2 linked regions of the Homo sapiens genome follow. The protein of the gene in region 1 purifies or fractionates together with the protein of each later gene. This does not show direct contact. Each region holds a gene or a part of one and is shown in the gene's direction. Other genes may lie near its edges.

Region 1 (3,654 bases):
TCTGAAAAGCTAGGTGTTGCCTCAGGGTCTCCCGGTGTCCTGTGGAAAATGCCTGGCCACGGTTTCCATGGTTCCCAGGCTCCAACCCTGCAGTTCTCAGCCCTCATTCAGGAGGGGCCTCGGCAGGGTGGGGGGTGCCGTCTTTCCCTTGCTGGAGCCCCAAGGACTCTGCCGGCTCCCTCGCTTTGGCAGCAGCACTGCCCACCCTGTCTCTGGAGGTTCCCCCGCCTCAATCCACCCAGCTACCCCGAAAGGCACAATCATAGGCCTTTCTCGTCTTTTAAGGGTTTTTACTTCCATGGGGAACTATGTGTTGGATGAGAAAAGTATCCGGGGAAGGGGACAGAGGTTCAGAAAGCTCTGCGAGTCCTGGACGCTGGTCTGCCTTCTTGGCTCACCCTGGAAGGTGGACGCTGGCCCCACACATCCCCTCTTAAAGACGCAGGCCGATAGCCAGCAGATCCTGGGGCTTGCTGGCCCCAAGTGAGTTGTCAGGGTTTCAGAGGACACCAGTCATGGCAACCCCAGCTCCATGGCTGCCACACAGGCCTGGGCTTCCCAGGACTGCCTCCTTCTTGTTCGCTTATGTAGATGAAAAATGAGGTAACGGCACTCCCCTGCCCCACCCTCCTCCCAGAAGTGCCCAGGGTGTAAACGCAATAGCTTGTGTGAAGTCCACTGGAACCCAGGCTCACCAAGTCAGTCTTAACCAACACAGGCCCCAGCACCCGCAGAGCAGACACTGCGATGACAACGGACGACACAGAAGTGCCCGCTATGACTCTAGCACCGGGCCACGCCGCTCTGGAAACTCAAACGCTGAGCGCTGAGACCTCTTCTAGGGCCTCAACCCCAGCCGGCCCCATTCCAGAAGCAGAGACCAGGGGAGCCAAGAGAATTTCCCCTGCAAGAGAGACCAGGAGTTTCACAAAAACATCTCCCAACTTCATGGTGCTGATCGCCACCTCCGTGGAGACATCAGCCGCCAGTGGCAGCCCCGAGGGAGCTGGAATGACCACAGTTCAGACCATCACAGGCAGTGATCCCAGGGAAGCCATCTTTGACACCCTTTGCACCGATGACAGCTCTGAAGAGGCAAAGACACTCACAATGGACATATTGACATTGGCTCACACCTCCACAGAAGCTAAGGGCCTGTCCTCAGAGAGCAGCGCCTCTTCCGACAGCCCCCATCCAGTCATCACCCCGTCACGGGCCTCAGAGAGCAGCGCCTCTTCCGACGGCCCCCATCCAGTCATCACCCCGTCACGGGCCTCAGAGAGCAGCGCCTCTTCCGACGGCCCCCATCCAGTCATCACCCCGTCACGGGCCTCAGAGAGCAGCGCCTCTTCCGACGGCCCCCATCCAGTCATCACCCCGTCACGGGCCTCAGAGAGCAGCGCCTCTTCCGACGGCCCCCATCCAGTCATCACCCCGTCACGGGCCTCAGAGAGCAGCGCCTCTTCCGACGGCCCCCATCCAGTCATCACCCCGTCACGGGCCTCAGAGAGCAGCGCCTCTTCCGACGGCCCCCATCCAGTCATCACCCCGTCACGGGCCTCAGAGAGCAGCGCCTCTTCCGACGGCCCCCATCCAGTCATCACCCCGTCACGGGCCTCAGAGAGCAGCGCCTCTTCCGACGGCCCCCATCCAGTCATCACCCCGTCACGGGCCTCAGAGAGCAGCGCCTCTTCCGACGGCCTCCATCCAGTCATCACCCCGTCACGGGCCTCAGAGAGCAGCGCCTCTTCCGACGGCCCCCATCCAGTCATCACCCCGTCACGGGCCTCAGAGAGCAGCGCCTCTTCCGACGGCCCCCATCCAGTCATCACCCCCTCATGGTCCCCGGGATCTGACGTCACTCTCCTCGCTGAAGCCCTGGTGACTGTCACAAACATCGAGGTTATTAATTGCAGCATCACAGAAATAGAAACAACGACTTCCAGCATCCCTGGGGCCTCAGACACAGATCTCATCCCCACGGAAGGGGTGAAGGCCTCGTCCACCTCCGATCCACCAGCTCTGCCTGACTCCACTGAAGCAAAACCACACATCACTGAGGTCACAGCCTCTGCCGAGACCCTGTCCACAGCCGGCACCACAGAGTCAGCTGCACCTGATGCCACGGTTGGGACCCCACTCCCCACTAACAGCGCCACAGAAAGAGAAGTGACAGCACCCGGGGCCACGACCCTCAGTGGAGCTCTGGTCACAGTTAGCAGGAATCCCCTTGAAGAAACCTCAGCCCTCTCTGTTGAGACACCAAGTTACGTCAAAGTCTCAGGAGCAGCTCCGGTCTCCATAGAGGCTGGGTCAGCAGTGGGCAAAACAACTTCCTTTGCTGGGAGCTCTGCTTCCTCCTACAGCCCCTCGGAAGCCGCCCTCAAGAACTTCACCCCTTCAGAGACACCGACCATGGACATCGCAACCAAGGGGCCCTTCCCCACCAGCAGGGACCCTCTTCCTTCTGTCCCTCCGACTACAACCAACAGCAGCCGAGGGACGAACAGCACCTTAGCCAAGATCACAACCTCAGCGAAGACCACGATGAAGCCCCCAACAGCCACGCCCACGACTGCCCGGACGAGGCCGACCACAGACGTGAGTGCAGGTAAGTGGCTCCTGCTGGTGATCTTCGGGGATTTGGGATGCGGAGTTTCCAGGACGTCTCCGCACTTGAGGAGTGGAGAGGAGGGAAGGATCTGGAGCCTACTCAGAGCCTGCTCCTGATGTTGCCTCTTCGTGATCTTCTAGTGGTTCTTGGCGAAATCAGGAAAAGGCAGATGGAGGGTTGTGTATGGAAAGGGGTGGGGATGGAAGTCCGGAGAAATGGTTTGCGGTCTCGGCTCTGCCTGTAACAACCCGAGTGACCTTGGGCAAGTCCCTGTCCCTCTCTGGGCCTCAGTTTCTCCACCTGTATTTGGAGAGGGTTGGAATGGGCACTGAAGTCCTGTCCAGCTCTGACCTTCTGTGAAGTGCACTGTTGAGCAGCTCTGGAAGCTTCTATTCCAGCCATAGCCACACAGAGGAGCAGCAGGCAGGCATCAGGCCCAAGCTGCTGCTCTCTGACAGGCTGGGACCCCATGAAAGTGGGGCCTGCTGGATGCATTTCCTGGGATTTATGCCATAGATAGTGACTTAAAATAAATTAATACAGGCCTGGAGCGGTGGCTTATGCCTGTAATCCCAGCACTTTGGGAGGCAGAGGCCGGCGGATCACCTGAGGTCAGGAGTTCGAGACCAGGCTGACCAACATGGTGAAACCCCATCTCTACTAAAAATATGAAAATTAGCTGGGCGCAGTGGTGGGCGCCTGTAATCCCAGCTACTTGGGAGACTGAGGCAGGAGAATCACTTGAACCCGGGAGGTGGAGGTTACAGTGAGCTGAGACGGAGTGAAACTCCGTCTCAAAAAAAAAAGGTAAGATAAAATAAGCAAATACAGCGAAGGCTTGGGAGTTTAAAGCTACATCTCTGAGGCAACAGGGACTTCTCAGGGGAGAAGTTCATTGTCAGAGGCTGCTTGGTCAGTCCAGCTTCTGGTCAGCCTGTAGCCTCCACCTCCACTTCCTGTCACTCTGCCCTTGGGCCTCATCTCTGTGTATCCGCAGCTTGTTACCACCTTTCTGGGGGAGGTGGGAATACAAATATTAA
Region 2 (3,654 bases), on another chromosome or scaffold:
GTAGCAAGTAACAGAACTTAGTAAATACTTTGCGAATGGGTAATGTGAAATCTGAACTTGCATAGTAATGAACACAATTCATCCACATTGAAAAATTAGCGGATTAGGAGTAAACTGAGTCACTCCTATAGAGCACTAGATAATTCTTAACTGATATATTGATCTACATGAGGCGTTTTTATTTATTTTTGATTTGTTAACATTCCTCTTTTGATGTATTAATCTGCATGCGTGTATATTATTTAAAGTTTCTTAACATTTCTCTGTTTGCTATTTTAGACAAGTTGCTTTGGCAGATGCCATTCTCATTAATAAAACAGACCTGGTTCCAGAAGAAGATGTAAAGAAATTAAGAACGACAATTAGGTACGAAATGATAAGTGTGTTAAGTGCCTACAGATCCATGTTGTATACACAGAATATTTTTTACTCTGATTGTTGCCCTGTAGAAACTTAAGGTATAAGGTTGAGCTGCTTCAAGAACGTTAGGGAATCACATATATTGTTGATGGCTAATTGTTATATAAATGGTAATACATAAAATTAGTCCCCAGTGCTTGCAGAATATAGTTCACAGTTAATAGACTGATATTCAGGGTCTTCGCACTCCATCTTTCTTTTCCTGTCTTCTCTTTGACTCTTTCCTAATGTCAGTCTTCCCTAACTTTACCCAGGATGGTTAATTCACTTTCCCATGGATGCATCCTGTCAGTTCCTGTCTTTACTCGTAATGTATTCTCACTCTGCCAATCCCTGAGTTCTTTCTTGTTCTGCTTTTTTTTTTTTTAATTTATTCTATAGAGCCTATTCTGTCTCTCCCCCCTTCCTATGTGAAGTCTTCCCTGACTCAAGTGGTCTCAGTTTTCCCTGAACTCTTGTTGACTTCATCTTCCTTAACTGTCAACCATGCCTTGTCTTCCAGCTTGCTTTAATATCTTCTTTGTCCATAGCCAAGGCTGATCAGCATAGGACAATCAGGACAATATGAATGATGCTCAAATATGTGCTAACAGTCATTTTGCTGACTGTTCTGGAGACTCCCATTCCTTTTGAAAACAAAGATGGGCTTTTCAAATGAGGTTATAGTTCAGGGGCTTTGTTTTGAATTATTTTGTAAGACCTGAACTAATAAAAGCCCTATACAGAGAGACATTCGGTAGCTATTAGTATTGGTTATCTTTAATGTGTACAATGCTTTGAGCGTGATGGCTCAAAATTACTATTCTTAGTATTTATAAGTTCTACTGACATTAGATTTTGAATCTGTCATCTCAGTTCATATAGTATATATTATCAATTGAATCAATAAAGGTAAGGCTCATTAGGAGATTATTTGCCATGATTAATGATTGTGGAAGAAAGAAATTCATATTTTTTCCACATATTTCATCTTATTTTAATAGTAATGTCCTTAAACTTTACTATAAAAAAATATAATGTCTCCACGTGGAGGGTAGGTATTGTTGCGTAGTGTTGAAGATCACAGACCTTGGAATCTGCTTGGGTTCTAATCCTTGGTCTGTTTCTCATTGTCTTCTTAGGGAGCTTATTTACCCTTTTAAAGCCTCCTCTGTAAAAGGCATAATGCCTATCATAAGTTTGCTTTGAGTATTACATGAGACAATGTTGGTAAACTTTGCACAGTGCTGACACATAGTAAGTGCTCTGTTAGCTATTATTATGTAATTTTTTTCTTAGCTTACATAGTAAGTTCAAGGTATAGTAAAAAAGGGAAGAAAGAAAAAGATGGCTGATTTTGAAAAGGAGAAAGTGATGAATGAAGATTGCTTTTACATTTTTTGACACTGGTCTTCTAATCTTGTTTCTCTTCATAAATCTTGTGCACCATTGTGATTGCTAAGAAGAACACAATCTATTTAGCAAATGTTTTTGGCATAAAAGGAATGATAATTATTACTTGACTTTTATATCCTTATAGAGACCTAAGCTAAATCTCTGACACTGACAATATTGACTATTAGCCAGCTTGTTAACAGTACTAGAAATGAATTTGGAAGAAGCAATTTGATAAATTACACACCCTTTTGGCTTTTACCCTCCCTTTATATCAGACTTGTGACTGACTCAGAATGATATTTGGGGAGGTGAAAAAAGGTAAACATGTTTGAGAGGAATTAGCCATCAGACTAGAGTGTATTCAAAAAAGAAGATTTAAGAATTTTGTAAAATAGTGGAGAGACTTGCCTCAGAATCATTATATGTGGGAAGCCTTACCCATGAGAACAAACTTGAACAAGTAGCAAGAATCTTGGGTAAGTAACCCTAAAGACAATTGAATTCATGATAGAGAATTGATGATTGATGATAGGCAATGGAAAAGATAAATAGATGAGGTGTACAGTGTGTTGAAAAGAATTTAACAGGTACTTTTTGGTGCCATACGAAGCCATATTCTATAGTATCAAAAGAGGGAGAACAGGCATAACGGGTAGAGAGCCTAATTAGGTAACTGACGAGGTTATTCTATAAAGGAACCTGGGATGTGTGACTTAGAATTACTGTGAATACTAAGGACAGGCTGGGGGCAAAGCAACTTGCAACTAGGTTTTTATTTTTAGTGTGTATATAGCCATTTCTACCATGTATGCCTGAGGAAAAAAGTGACCACCGTAAAAATTTTGAGTATCTACTCATTTTTAAGAACACTAGGATAACTGACTATTTATGAATGATTTTTTCTAAAGTGAAGTGTCTTTTTATTAACCACAAAGTAGCCCTTAATCTGACAGTTGTGCGAATTTTTGCATATATGTTTTATTAATGTATGAGTGGAATATATGTGATTTATTGTTTGAAGGAAAATCACAATTATTTTTTAAAGCAAGTTTTGTTTTTCTGTTTTTAATTTTTTTCTGGTTCCAGATGTATTTGGGTATGCTTATTTCCTGTTTTAGAAACAATATACTTTGTATACTTTTTTAAAAAGTTAATTTTTACTTTTAAACTTTGTCTTCCTCATTTATTATTTATTTCAGATCCATAAATGGACTAGGACAAATCTTAGAAACACAAAGATCAAGGTACTTTAAAAAAGCTATTCCTATTAATAACAAATCATTTTAGTTATTAATAATAAACATTAAATAATTGACAAATATGCTTGATTCTAATATAAGAAAGATCTAAGTGCATTTAAAAAGAATTGGATCCAAAATGTTGTTTGGAATGCTCTTAATAAGTTAGTTTGGCATATTTGGCTAGTACATTTGCCTGTCTTCAAAACTAAGAATACAAAGCCATGATAACACTGTGTAAGTGTTTGCTTAATGAGGAAGAAAAGACTTCCAAACACTCGAGAGGGTAACTCAGTACAGAAATCTGAAGTATATTGAGGAATCTTAATTTGAAGTGTTTAAATGGCTTTTTAATATTTAAAAAGCCTTCTTAGTGTTTTATAGTTGCCAAAAAATACATGGAGTCTTTACCTTGAAGTTCCTGACAAATTCTTTTATTAAATTTTGACTTTCATTTTCTCTAGGTTCTGTTCCTAAAACATCTGTGAAGTGTATTTCTGTAGATTAAATTCTGTTTTCCATTGAATGTTATCTTAATTTCAGAAAATTTCTGTGCAGGGTTATTTTATTAAGCTCATTTTTTTTTTTTTTTTTTTTTTTTTGGTGAGAAAGGCTCAGC

What was found. Proteins that work in one complex are often made in the same cells at the same time.
Region 2: the proteins of MUC20 (region 1) and ZNG1A purify together in Homo sapiens (affinity purification with mass spectrometry; 2 studies listed by BioGRID and IntAct, with this or other methods). This does not show direct contact.

What each region holds. Positions count from the first base shown.
Region 1 is NC_000003.12:195,723,962-195,727,615, forward strand, and holds part of MUC20 (mucin-20 isoform a precursor), read left to right. Parts: intron 1-718; coding exon 719-2,611; intron 2,612-3,654. UniProt on the Homo sapiens protein: May regulate MET signaling cascade. Seems to decrease hepatocyte growth factor (HGF)-induced transient MAPK activation. Blocks GRB2 recruitment to MET thus suppressing the GRB2-RAS pathway. Inhibits HGF-induced proliferation of MMP1 and MMP9 expression.
Region 2 is NC_000009.12:151,421-155,074, reverse strand, and holds part of ZNG1A (zinc-regulated GTPase metalloprotein activator 1A), read left to right. Parts: intron 1-279; coding exon 280-366; intron 367-2,996; coding exon 2,997-3,041; intron 3,042-3,647; exon of another isoform or gene 3,648-3,654. UniProt on the Homo sapiens protein: Zinc chaperone that directly transfers zinc cofactor to target metalloproteins, thereby activating them.